2 separate regions of the Homo sapiens genome follow, and region 2 is linked to region 1. A link means that fine-mapping ties the variant in region 1 to the plasma level of a protein whose gene starts in the linked region. Region 1 holds a variant in brackets. A gene starts in the other region. All regions are shown on their reverse strands.

Evidence for each region. PIP is the posterior inclusion probability: the model's chance that the variant is causal. The UK Biobank Pharma Proteomics Project read protein levels with antibody pairs (Olink). The fine-mapping took linkage between variants from a reference panel, not from the people measured, so its PIPs are less certain.
Region 2: it holds the start of FLRT2, and the variant in region 1 is fine-mapped to the plasma level of the FLRT2 protein (UK Biobank, PIP 0.92).

What each region holds. Positions count from the first base shown.
Region 1 is chr20:14,646,983-14,652,361 of GRCh38, reverse strand. The region is part of intron 4 of MACROD2 (mono-ADP ribosylhydrolase 2); the gene reads right to left. Among named protein-coding and RNA genes, the nearest start is that of MACROD2-IT1, 95 kb to the right of the region's middle. The variant A/G (reference allele first, on the strand shown) is at 2,937.
Region 2 is chr14:85,527,887-85,533,265 of GRCh38, reverse strand. It overlaps FLRT2 (fibronectin leucine rich transmembrane protein 2), which reads right to left and starts at 3,122. Exons shown (of 2, transcript NM_013231.6): 1 at 2,732-3,122. It overlaps FLRT2-AS1 (FLRT2 antisense RNA 1), which reads left to right and starts at 1,607. Exons shown (of 2, transcript NR_184170.1): 1 at 1,607-4,649.

The sequences.
Region 1 (5,379 bases):
GACAAAAGAAATACCATGCTCTTGTTATATGAGATAAAATATTATGGTAAAATTACTTTCCACTATAATTTTGAAATGTGTAAAATTATTGTTAATACCAGAACACTGAAAGTCACAGCTTACAGGTTAATCATTTGGGGTTAAAAGATAAATCTCTGAATAGGAATTCCCAACAGTCAACTGTCTAAACTTATATGTAAAATAATTAAAAGAAAACAATGATAAGGATATACAATGTGAGGCAATCATATGTTTCCAAAATATTGATGGGATGACCTACCCTAGTTGGGTATCTCTTTGCCCTGCCTTGATATCTGTCAAATAACCAGAGTTATTATGGCTTTTCAAACTACAACTGTTTAGCATATAACTAAGCCCCTACTAGATACTCCAGTAAGATTTGTAATAATATGAAAGTTTATGAATTCATAATTACTCTCTAAATAAACAAGAAACAGAGGCTGCTACCTAGGTGAGACACTGCCTCAGCCTGAGTTCCCCAGGTAGCACCAACACAGAAATCCGCAGTGGGAATGGGATTTGATGAGACACTGGTCGGCAGTCCCCACAGGAAGATAGTTGGAGTCCATGCAGAACTGATTGCCACAGCTGTGGAGACAAGTGAAGCCAAATGGATCTGGAGAGGCATATATCCTCCTCCAGGAATTGGGCCTATAACAAAGTGGCTTTCTCACACTTGAACTTCCTGACATGCCACTATGCATGATACATTCATTTCTTGACTATATTTCAATATAGCAATATGGTTCAGGATTGAGGCTTGAGGTCAAAACAAGGATTTCCAGTCTCTGCCTCATCCAGCTGACTCCCTACCTCCATCACTTATTACTCCTATATAACCTTGGTTGTATTTACTTTGGCTTTGATCACCAAGGATTTGGGAAATATGTTCCAGTCAAAGCCAGGATGTGCAGCCCAGTCCTCTCTTCCTCATGCCCTCCTTTCTTCTGGTCCCCTATTATATCAGGGTCTAGTTCTAACTAATGCTGTGGAGGCACCAATTTCCCCTCTGTAAGTTCCTATGCACTAATCTTCTTGACCTGTTGAACTCCTTTCTTAAGCTCTTTTCTCTTTGGCATCATGACGTCCCCCTATAAAAGCACTGTCTTCGGTGGATTCATCAGACCATACAAGTTTGGGAAATGCAGCATACGCTGTCCCTGTCTTGGAAATTCACAGTGCATAATGAGTAATACTGCAAGAAGTAAATCTATTTAATGACATTTAATTCTGTACCTTCCAAACTTATCTGATCCTAGAACCCTGTTTTGGACATAACCCCTCTTGACATTCTATAGACCTAATATTCTATGGAGTGGCTATGGAAATTCTTCTCTCTTTTGTTCTATACTCCCTTTCATTGATCTATTGTTTCCACATTATGTATATAATTTTCAACTCTCATTCTGGAAATAGTGCTTGCAACTTAACTATCCCTGTTTGGGGTTTTTCAAACTGTGAATGCTTATCATAGACCAAATGACATGAGTTTACTTTTCATTTCAGTGTTTCACTCAGAACTGCTTCTGGCAACTATATTAAAGGCTGCACTTTGGTGTGTAGTGCGAAGGGTTATTAACAATGTTTTTTAAACAATGGAAGGGGTTTATATCTGCCCCTCAAAAAATCTAATCATTTGGTAGGGAAGCAGTATAGAAGGATAAAAGGAACTAATCTCCATTAAGGTTATGTAACCACAGAAGAACATCCAGCTGTTTGCTGTTAGTTTACCATAGACAACAAATAGGCTGAAAAAGTCAGTTCCATTTGAGTCTTAAACTTGTAAGAAGAATGATAATTACTAATTTTTGACAGTGGAACTCTAACCTCCAATGGAGAAGAACCATTGATAATTTATGCCATATATTCTGATCTCCTTAATCATTTTTACAAAGCTCAAAAGGGAAGTAGGGGTGAGGAGATAATTACTAAAGTTGTTTCTCCAGCCTAGGGTAAAGTAATAGATCAAGATCAATTTCATTTAGACCTGAACAAAATAAGAAGTCAGTAACCACAGCCAACTGTGTAAGAACTGGAAGAGAGATCAGACATATTTACATGGCAAGGTGTTTAAGCTGTCAACACCTGAGACTCCTTAGTAAGTCCCAGACACACCTAACTCATTCTTTACAAGTAGGAAGACTTGCCCATGTAAAGATGCTACCAATCAGCATGGGGAGACAGTTTTTTGCATATCTCAGCCATGCAAGCATCTGGAACAAATCCACTCAGATTGATAGTAGGATGTGTTAAGTCTAGAACTGTTAAGAGGTTACAAAATTTTCCCTTCTGCCTCCTGCTCCCATTCTGAATATGTGGATTTGACTTATCTGAGAAGGAAGGTATTGGCTCAACTAAGGGCTTTAATCTTCAGACTTACTGCAAAAACAAGTTGTTATCAGTCTATGCATACTCCACCTGGATCCAGAGTCAAGAACTGAGAATATTCAACCTGTAGGCTCAGCCCCACCCAGCCTGTGACTCAATGAGAACCAAGCCTGGGTGTTTATTAGATGTAGAGTTCTAACAAAGGGAGGGCCCTGGTATTAGCCTCGGTATTCTTATCTGACAACCAGCACAATGTACCCAGGGCAAACTCTTTAGGGATCTATGCACTTACAGAGATATAGCTGAATATTTAGGTGTGGAAAGCCTAAATACCTTGTCATATAAACATGCCAGCCCCCAACATGTATGGCCAGCCCCATGACCAAGCTCCAAAACCAGTTCTTTGTTAGCATTCTATGTCCCTAAGGGAACTGCAGTCCTTCCCTGAAGCTTGGCTCACTGAGCTAAGGTCTTGGATCCCCTTTGCAGCCAATGCAAACTCCTCTTCGGGAGCTGGATCTTGCTTACTTTCCCTGTTAGAACTGTGGTCATGACTTAGTCCAGATGATTGTTCCTATAAGCAACGG[A/G]GATGCTCTCCCTTGAAGACTTAAATTGCTATCATCCAGACATCCCTACCCATAAGAATAAACTTTTTAGATATCAGTATTGGTCTATATCTGAGGAAATTGACTATGCCATCTTTGAGACTAGTTTCACTAGTGCTACCCTCATTAATCTCTAAAACTCTTTCCTCTTACCAGACAGTCCATACTTCATGGTAGAACTAACTGAACCCATGACAGGACAAAGAAGTGTTGGATACAGAAACACAAATGGCTATTTCTTTTATTTTGTCCATGTCCCAAGGAGTAATTTCTTTAACAAAACTGGGCAGGGGGGTAGAAGCCCTAAGTATGGAGGACACTGAGTGTGAAGTGAAGGAGTGTGGACCTCTGGAGTTCACAAACATACACAGGACTCCAGGTCTGCTGATTACTTCCAAGAAAACATGAATTTCAGGGGTTACCTCATGGGCCTATTGCACGTAGCACTTGAAGGAGAAACTGTGGATTTTACCTATTTATTGCTGTATTTTCCAGATGAGAGAAAGGAGCTTAAATCACTAAGAATAACAGATTAACTGGCATAGGTGAAGATTATATTATTTAATAAAGACATTCTTGGTTAAATACATAATGGTATAAAGTACAAAATATTAAGCAGCAATTAAAAAGGATGTTAGATCTTTAATAAGACCCAACTGAATATTCATAGTATACTCTTAAATAAGTTGCAGAGTAGTGTGTATAGTATGACTCCATTTTTATAAAAAACAAAACTAAGCAATAAACCTCTGAGTATGTGAGATAGATAGATATATATATATATATGTTTAAATAAACAAAGAAGAGGCAAAGGAGAGAAAGTAGACGTAGACAAAGGCAAAGGCAAAAAGAGAGAAAGTAGAAAGATCCACATTGGACTGCTAGTTTCTGTTACCTAAACATTTTGATCCTCCCTAGTTTAAATCCAGTTGTTACATTAAGAATGGTTTACTTTGTTGACTTTTTCCAAATTAATACAGAGATTTCAGGAAGATTATATTGAAAATAAACTGGACGTTCAATGTCACCTGGGTACTTTCAGTTAGTGAGTCCTATAATGAACCATTTTGTAAATTGTATGAATGGCCTAATATATCTTATTTGTAATGTAAATATTGATATCTGTGTTTCTGTAGAATAGTGACCCACTCTACTTTACAGGCCTAGTCATCTTACATAGAGAAAGCATTCTGATCTTTAGGTTCCTTTGTTCCAATAAACATCACATTGCCAAGATTTTGAGTTATAATCCTGACCTGTATTACCACTGTGTCCATTTCTAATGTCACAAAAATATTAGCTATTATTACTCTAAGCAGTCACCCACCATCCGTATTTAGGCACTACATATAAGGCACTATGGAGGCAAAGGTAAATGAAAATTAAGCACTGCCTGTGGAGGTCCTTAGTCTAATGAAAGACACTTTTGCCCTACCTAGCTGGATAGGATGCAAATGGCAGTGCTCTGGGGAAAGAGGTGGTGTTGGGTCTTCTGATTCAGTGAGAAAAATATGGTGTTGCCCTCTTATGAGAAGAGTAACATGAAGGTACTCCTGAAAGCTGTAAATCCCGGGACAATGGAAAAAAAATGAACAGGAATAGTGGTGCCTGAATCATGGGAAGTTCCTTGCAGATCATGTCCCCTAGACCTGGAGTATTGTCTCTCAGTCAAGAGTGACAGGAATATTTATCTGTCCTATTAAAGAGGATGTTTGTCATCATTGTGAGAGAGATTCTAGTAGCTGGGGTACATTTAGAAATGAAATTGAGAGCTAGGGGTCTGGGTGTCTTATGAGGCATCAAGGGATCCAATGAGAACTTAGTACAGTGTTTCCCTACATTCTTGACCTGAAAAAAAACTGGGGCACAAATACTGAGACTGAGATGGTGTTAGCCATGACAATTCCTTCAGATTTGCAATGCATTGAAATATGTGCTCAGTTAGTATTATTTTTTTGAAACAAAATGTTATCTCTTTTATCATTACACCACCCCCAAGGTTAATGAGAAAATTTTTACATGTGTACCCAAAAACAATCATCTGAGATTTCTGCCTCTGCCAAAATGTAAGAGGAAAGCATGAGCTGCTGAAACAAAACTTCAAATGATTAAACAAACTGGGTAGCTTCGTCTAAATCCTTGAGTTTTCAGTTCCAGGAGCCCTGGGGATCATGCAGTATGTTCTTTTTACACAAATAGATTTTTCAGAGAACTCAGGAAAAGCCAAATAAATCCTCCTGAATTAGTAGCTGCTTGCTGTACAACCAAGGCCTTCAAGTGTTGAAGAGAATAGTTTAACTAGGATTTTCTCAAACTTGTTTTAGAGGGAAAATGCTGATTACTTTATTAAGATCCCACATGAGGTGTGCCAGCTTGATAAAAACATTAACAGACGGATCATCAAGAAGGTCGGCAGCAAATATTC
Region 2 (5,379 bases), not on the chromosome of region 1:
TAATGAATTCGCGGGATCGCCTCCGCAGCTCCCGCGCTCCTCCTCTCCCTCCGTCCCTCGCGCTCTGGCGCGCTCCGCTCCTGGAGCCCTCTTTCTCTCCCTCCCTCATTCCCTCCCTCTCTCCCGGAGTCCCTCCTACTTTTCTGGTTTAAAGAATGCTTGGGAGGCGCGGCTGCTACCCAGTGATTTCCAAGAGGCAAAGTCAGACTTGGCTTTTAACCCTGTCCTCTCTGAAAAGAGTTGAAGAGCGCCTGGCTAACCCGGCAGATGCCACCCTGACCTTCTCTCTATCTACCCGGCACATGCCGTTCCTACCACCAGTCCTTAGGGATAATGTCACCATCTGAACCCTGAAAGGAGAATTCCCCATACCTGCTTAATGGTGTACTGCCAAGAGGGAGGATCTATTACTTAGACACTGAGAAATGATCGAAATGTGAGATTAGAGGGTAAAATACAGCAAACCTCTCAACCAAAATGGCGTTATTTCAAATGCAGGCAACCTTGGTGATGTGCCCCCCACTCCTCACCCCATCACTAGTTCCCTCATCCTGGACCACCTTAAATGACTTTAACTGGGGGAGTAATCCAAAATTTAATAGGATTAATTTAAACACCCCCACTTTCTTCCTTCAACCTGGCTGCTTCTGGCAAGAGCGTTGTTAAATTTCCCCATAGATTGCAGCGGACAAAGAAAGATTCAGCCTAAAGATTAGGAAACAGTCTTGACAGCTAAGAAGCCTGATTTCTGTACAGGCAACGTTTCCACTTCGCAGTCTCTTTCCAAAGGTTAAAGGGTAATGTAAAAAACAAACAAACAAGTAAAAAAAGCTAGGTGCACGTCTCTATTTAGGAAGGAGGAGATGTTTTTGGTTTTCTCATCTTATTTCGTGCTGCTCTTCCTGCCTCCAGTAAGTTGCTGTCATGTTGTAACAAGTCCGGTGAGGCTGAATCTGAACAGAAGAGGGAGAACGAGCCCGCGCCAAGAGCTACGCCGAGACGCGCCGTCGGTGGGGCCACGCGAGATGCAACCGGAGAGTTTAAAACTAGCCCAGGACCAACCCCCCAGGGATCCGCTCAACTCTCCCCGCAGAAGAGTTTAAGTGGGGCAGTGGCCGCCACAGGCTGAGGATGATTTCCGGACGCGCCCCAGGCGCGACCGCACTACTCGTCCTCAGTTCAAAGCCTGAGTGACTTGGCACCACTTCCCCAATTGTTTTTTATTTCCTTCGCATCCCTGTTGTGTCTACCGCTTTCACGTATTTGAGAGCCTAAATCATGTTAAGACGACTTGGAGAAACGCCCGATTTGCCTCCCAAGCCACGCAAGGATCCACCCAGACGCACGCCCGCGCGGAGACGCACGCTGGCACACGCGCTCACACACGCGAGCACACACACGCGCACACTACCCGGTTCGTGCGCGCGGGTCGCTGTTCCTGTTGCATTATGCAAAGGTGGCTGGGAAAGCGCGTTGACTTACATTTACATAGCCCATCTTCTCCCCACAGTATGTGACTAATACGTATCCCGGGGAGGAGGGAGCGCGGCTGGGGGTGCTAATCGGAAGGGAACAGACAGTGAGTGCCATCTTGCTGGGAGGTTCCAGAAGCAAAGCGCCAACGACGACAGTAGCGGTGGCCTCAGCTCCACCAGTAACTGCCGCTGGCAGGAGCACCACACGCTCTAGGAGTTTCCCGGGTATCAAGTATGGGTCCAGCCCGTCCCAGTTATCCTCTTCCCCTATGGCTTCATTCCCGTTGTCAGTACCCCGACCTCAGCTTGCAACCTTGATCTTGGGCTTGATTATAAATGACGAAAGACCGCGGCAGCCTTCAAAGTGCGGGAGCGAGCCCCGTACTGGTCAGCGCGGCGGAGGGATCTTTCCAGGAGGCCCCAAGCCCCCAAGCCTGTGGAGAGACTTGGTAACAGCTGGCAAGGCCTGCTCCAGCCACCCTCGCTGGCTCCTTGCCCCTGCATTCAGCGCCTGAGGGCGTTATTCGCCCTCTCCCTGCGTCCCACGCAAGCGGCTCAAGGAACTCACTCGATCCGGATTCCGCCTCGTATGCTCTCCAAGCCTTCGCCACCTCCGCAGGCGCTCTAGAAAGGCGTGATGGCCCCAGCTCAGTGCCCGCCAGCCCGAAGAGGACAAGCAGGGCTGGAAGGGACTTGGTTTTGGAAAAAGCCCCACCCGCCCCCACCAACTGGAAGGAAAAGGAATTAGTATCCACCGCATCTGTTTAACTGCTAATAGATCCCAGATTACGGGCAGGTAGTAGGTTGGTGTCTTTAGATACAACAGCCTGATAATAACGCTGGTGACATTAACAACAGCTTGTGGAGGGGAGAGGGTTGTTACTGGTGAAAGTTAAGAGATTCAATCTAGGGAAGTAGGAGACTGAACTCTGACAAGGTTAGGGGCACTGAGAACCCCAATTTAGCATCGATGCATCTACCAGGCAAGAAAATTTGCGTTTTGACCCAGAACTCAGTCATGATGCTCCGTAGAGGAGGTGGATTCGACCAGCAGACAGATGTCCCCAAAGTCGAGAGAGAGCTAAGCTGCCTATTTTCTCTCCAGGTGAAAGACAAAGCCTAGAGCACCCCACTTAAGATGACCACCCCCAGCTCTTTCAAAAAAAAAAAATCCCCCGAAGAGACAGCGTGGTGCCAGCGTAGCAGCAGCTCGGCCGGTTACTGGAAACTTCACCTGGCAACGCAGCCCCTTTTACCTGACGGCTGCGTCTTCTCCTTGCAATGGGCTCATCCGAATCCGACAGGGTCAGGGAGGTGGAAAGGGAAGACGCTGGCGCGGCAGCAGCGGGGATCCCGGGGCATGGTATTGTTTTAGGGGTCGCCGCCGAGGTCCCTCCTGCCCATCGTTGAGAACTGCCACCCTGATCCCAGGGCTCGGTGGACACGGCGGCGGGAGCGGAGATGCCGCCTCGCCGCTGCTGGGCACCAGGGACGGAGGACCAGAGGCGCACCTCGGAAAGGAGTAGCTCAGCGCCTTGGCGCGGAGATTTGCGGGCACTGATGATATCTCGAGCGCTCGTTCCTCCGCGGTGACAATGGATAATGCCAAACGCGCAAGTGACGGCGACAGGTTTCGAACGTACAACTAACTACAAGGTACCCAGCCTGAGACAGTATGCTGCTTTTCCCCTCCTCCTCCTCTCCCTCCTACCAGGGAGGGAACTAACTTAACCCTGTGTGCGCCTGACACTCCCTAGAGAAGCTGGGATCGACTAGGAAACCGCAGGCAGCGGCTCCCGGGGGCGAGAGCTTTGTTCACGTGCGTTTCCAGTGGGTGTGTTGCTGTCTAGGGGCACTCGCGTGGCAAGACGCCCGTGGCTGGCTTCCAGCGCCCAAGATTCAAGGAAGGGAAGGAGCCCTAGCGTTTCATCCGGACCAGACCCAGCCCTCGGAGTCTATTTTTTGCCTCCAGTTACCGGATTTATTGAAGTTGCCAGCGAAGTTGGTTTTATTCCTTTACTTCTCTGCTCTCCGCCCCCGTCCACATCCCCCAACCCTGTATTATTTCCTGTCCTAGCTGCGCTTTAAAGATTCGGAACTTTTCACTCGTTCTAGCTACAGATTTTAACTGTGTTCCGTGTGCGAGACGAATTGTGGAGGGCACCCACCCACCCATGCCAAGTGTAAATGAAACCGCAAGAAAAGCTGCCTCCCACTCACCCATCCAGTGTCCGAGTAAGCCTAATGACACACATTCACATAACTAAGAAGACACGGGAAGATAGGGGTGCGGAGGACGGAGTTTGATGTGTGAATGGGAAATGGAGAGAGGGGACAGCGCGCGCGAGAGAAACAGCGCGAGCCTGAGCCTTAGAATGGAATAAACGGGAAACACACACAAGAATGACGATGCAAAAAATGTATCTAAGTCCCAACATTGACAGCAGAGGGTCAGCTTTAAGCGCCTACATTTTGATCCGCGAAATTTCCCAGCTTTTTTGGAGGCGGTTACATAGAGAACACAGGAGCCTCTGCCTTGGCCGCCCAGATGCTTTGCATTTTGTAAACAGCTTTGACTAAGTGCTCTGGACTTCCAAGAAGTTAACTGGAGTGGAAGGCGAGTCATATTGTGGATGCGGAATGGAAGCTTAGACAAGAAAAAACTGTCAGCAGAGCGCCTCTGCTCTCACCGTCACACCCAAATGAGCCAGGACGTCGCTCAGAGCGCAAACTGAGATCCACACAGGGACATCTTCAACCGAATCTTTCTTCTGTCTCCATTCCGGACTAAGGAAAGAAAGAAAGAAATACGGAGCCTTTATAGAGTATTCAGAGGCTACACACATGGATCTTGCTGAAACGGAGTTATTTAAAAACAGAGAAAGTGTGTTTTCCCATGAGATAGATGTTATAGTTTCTCTCTGAAACATACCCAAGTCTATGGGTGTCAATAATAGCCATTTCAAATGCCTCTCTGAGCCTTGCCAGCCCCAGAAGAGGCTGTGGGAATGCTGCTTCCAGCTTCCCCTGTGCAGAACTCCGTTGTAAATCCTTCTGAGTTTCCAAGGTGGCAGCAGAGCATAGGGATAGCTCCTCAAGCTCCAGCATCAACAAGGAAGATCACATTTTAGGACAAATACTCATCTACCTGCATTTAAACATCCATTTTCGTATGTAAGTGTACATAAGTATCCGCAGGAGGTTCTTCCTTTGAAATCTTGATCCAGGAAAGCAGCATAATTATTTCATCTTTAAGAACACATTTTAAAAAGGCAAAGCAGGATCTTTAAAGCAACAAAGGTTTTGCTTTCTGATTTATGCTGCTAGAAAATGAATGAGATTGAAAATGGGGGAGGGGGTGGTTGCAGATTTACAGAATTCATACTTTAAATTATTGGTGTTTCTAAACCATGAGCAAACCATGTTATGAGTATGTGCCACCTATTAAAAGCTATTGGTTGCATCTATTGTAATCACGACAAGGAAAATTAAGTAAGAAAAAATATCACGCCAAAGTACAAGCAGAATCGTTGTAACAAATTTCTTATGCACATGACCTATGAGTCAGCTTTAGAAATGTGTGATGATGGGGCCAGAGGAAGCAAACGAATAGGAAATGTGGCTCAGGGACTCCAAAGAGCAATAATTTTGCAGACTTAGAAAACTATAACAATTAGGTTACTTTATTTTTATTAGGAAACTCACTGATCCATAAGAGAAGTGGGTGAAAGAAAAACAAAAAGCAAATCTGCAAGCTTCAAAAAACAGAGGGTCAGCCCACTATTCTTAAGACTTCAGTCCTCAATAGTTTTCCTTTCAATTGAAATTGATTGTCATCTCAAACACTTTAATCCCCCACCCGCGTGTTTCTTACATCATTCCCCATCTATACACACATAGGTAC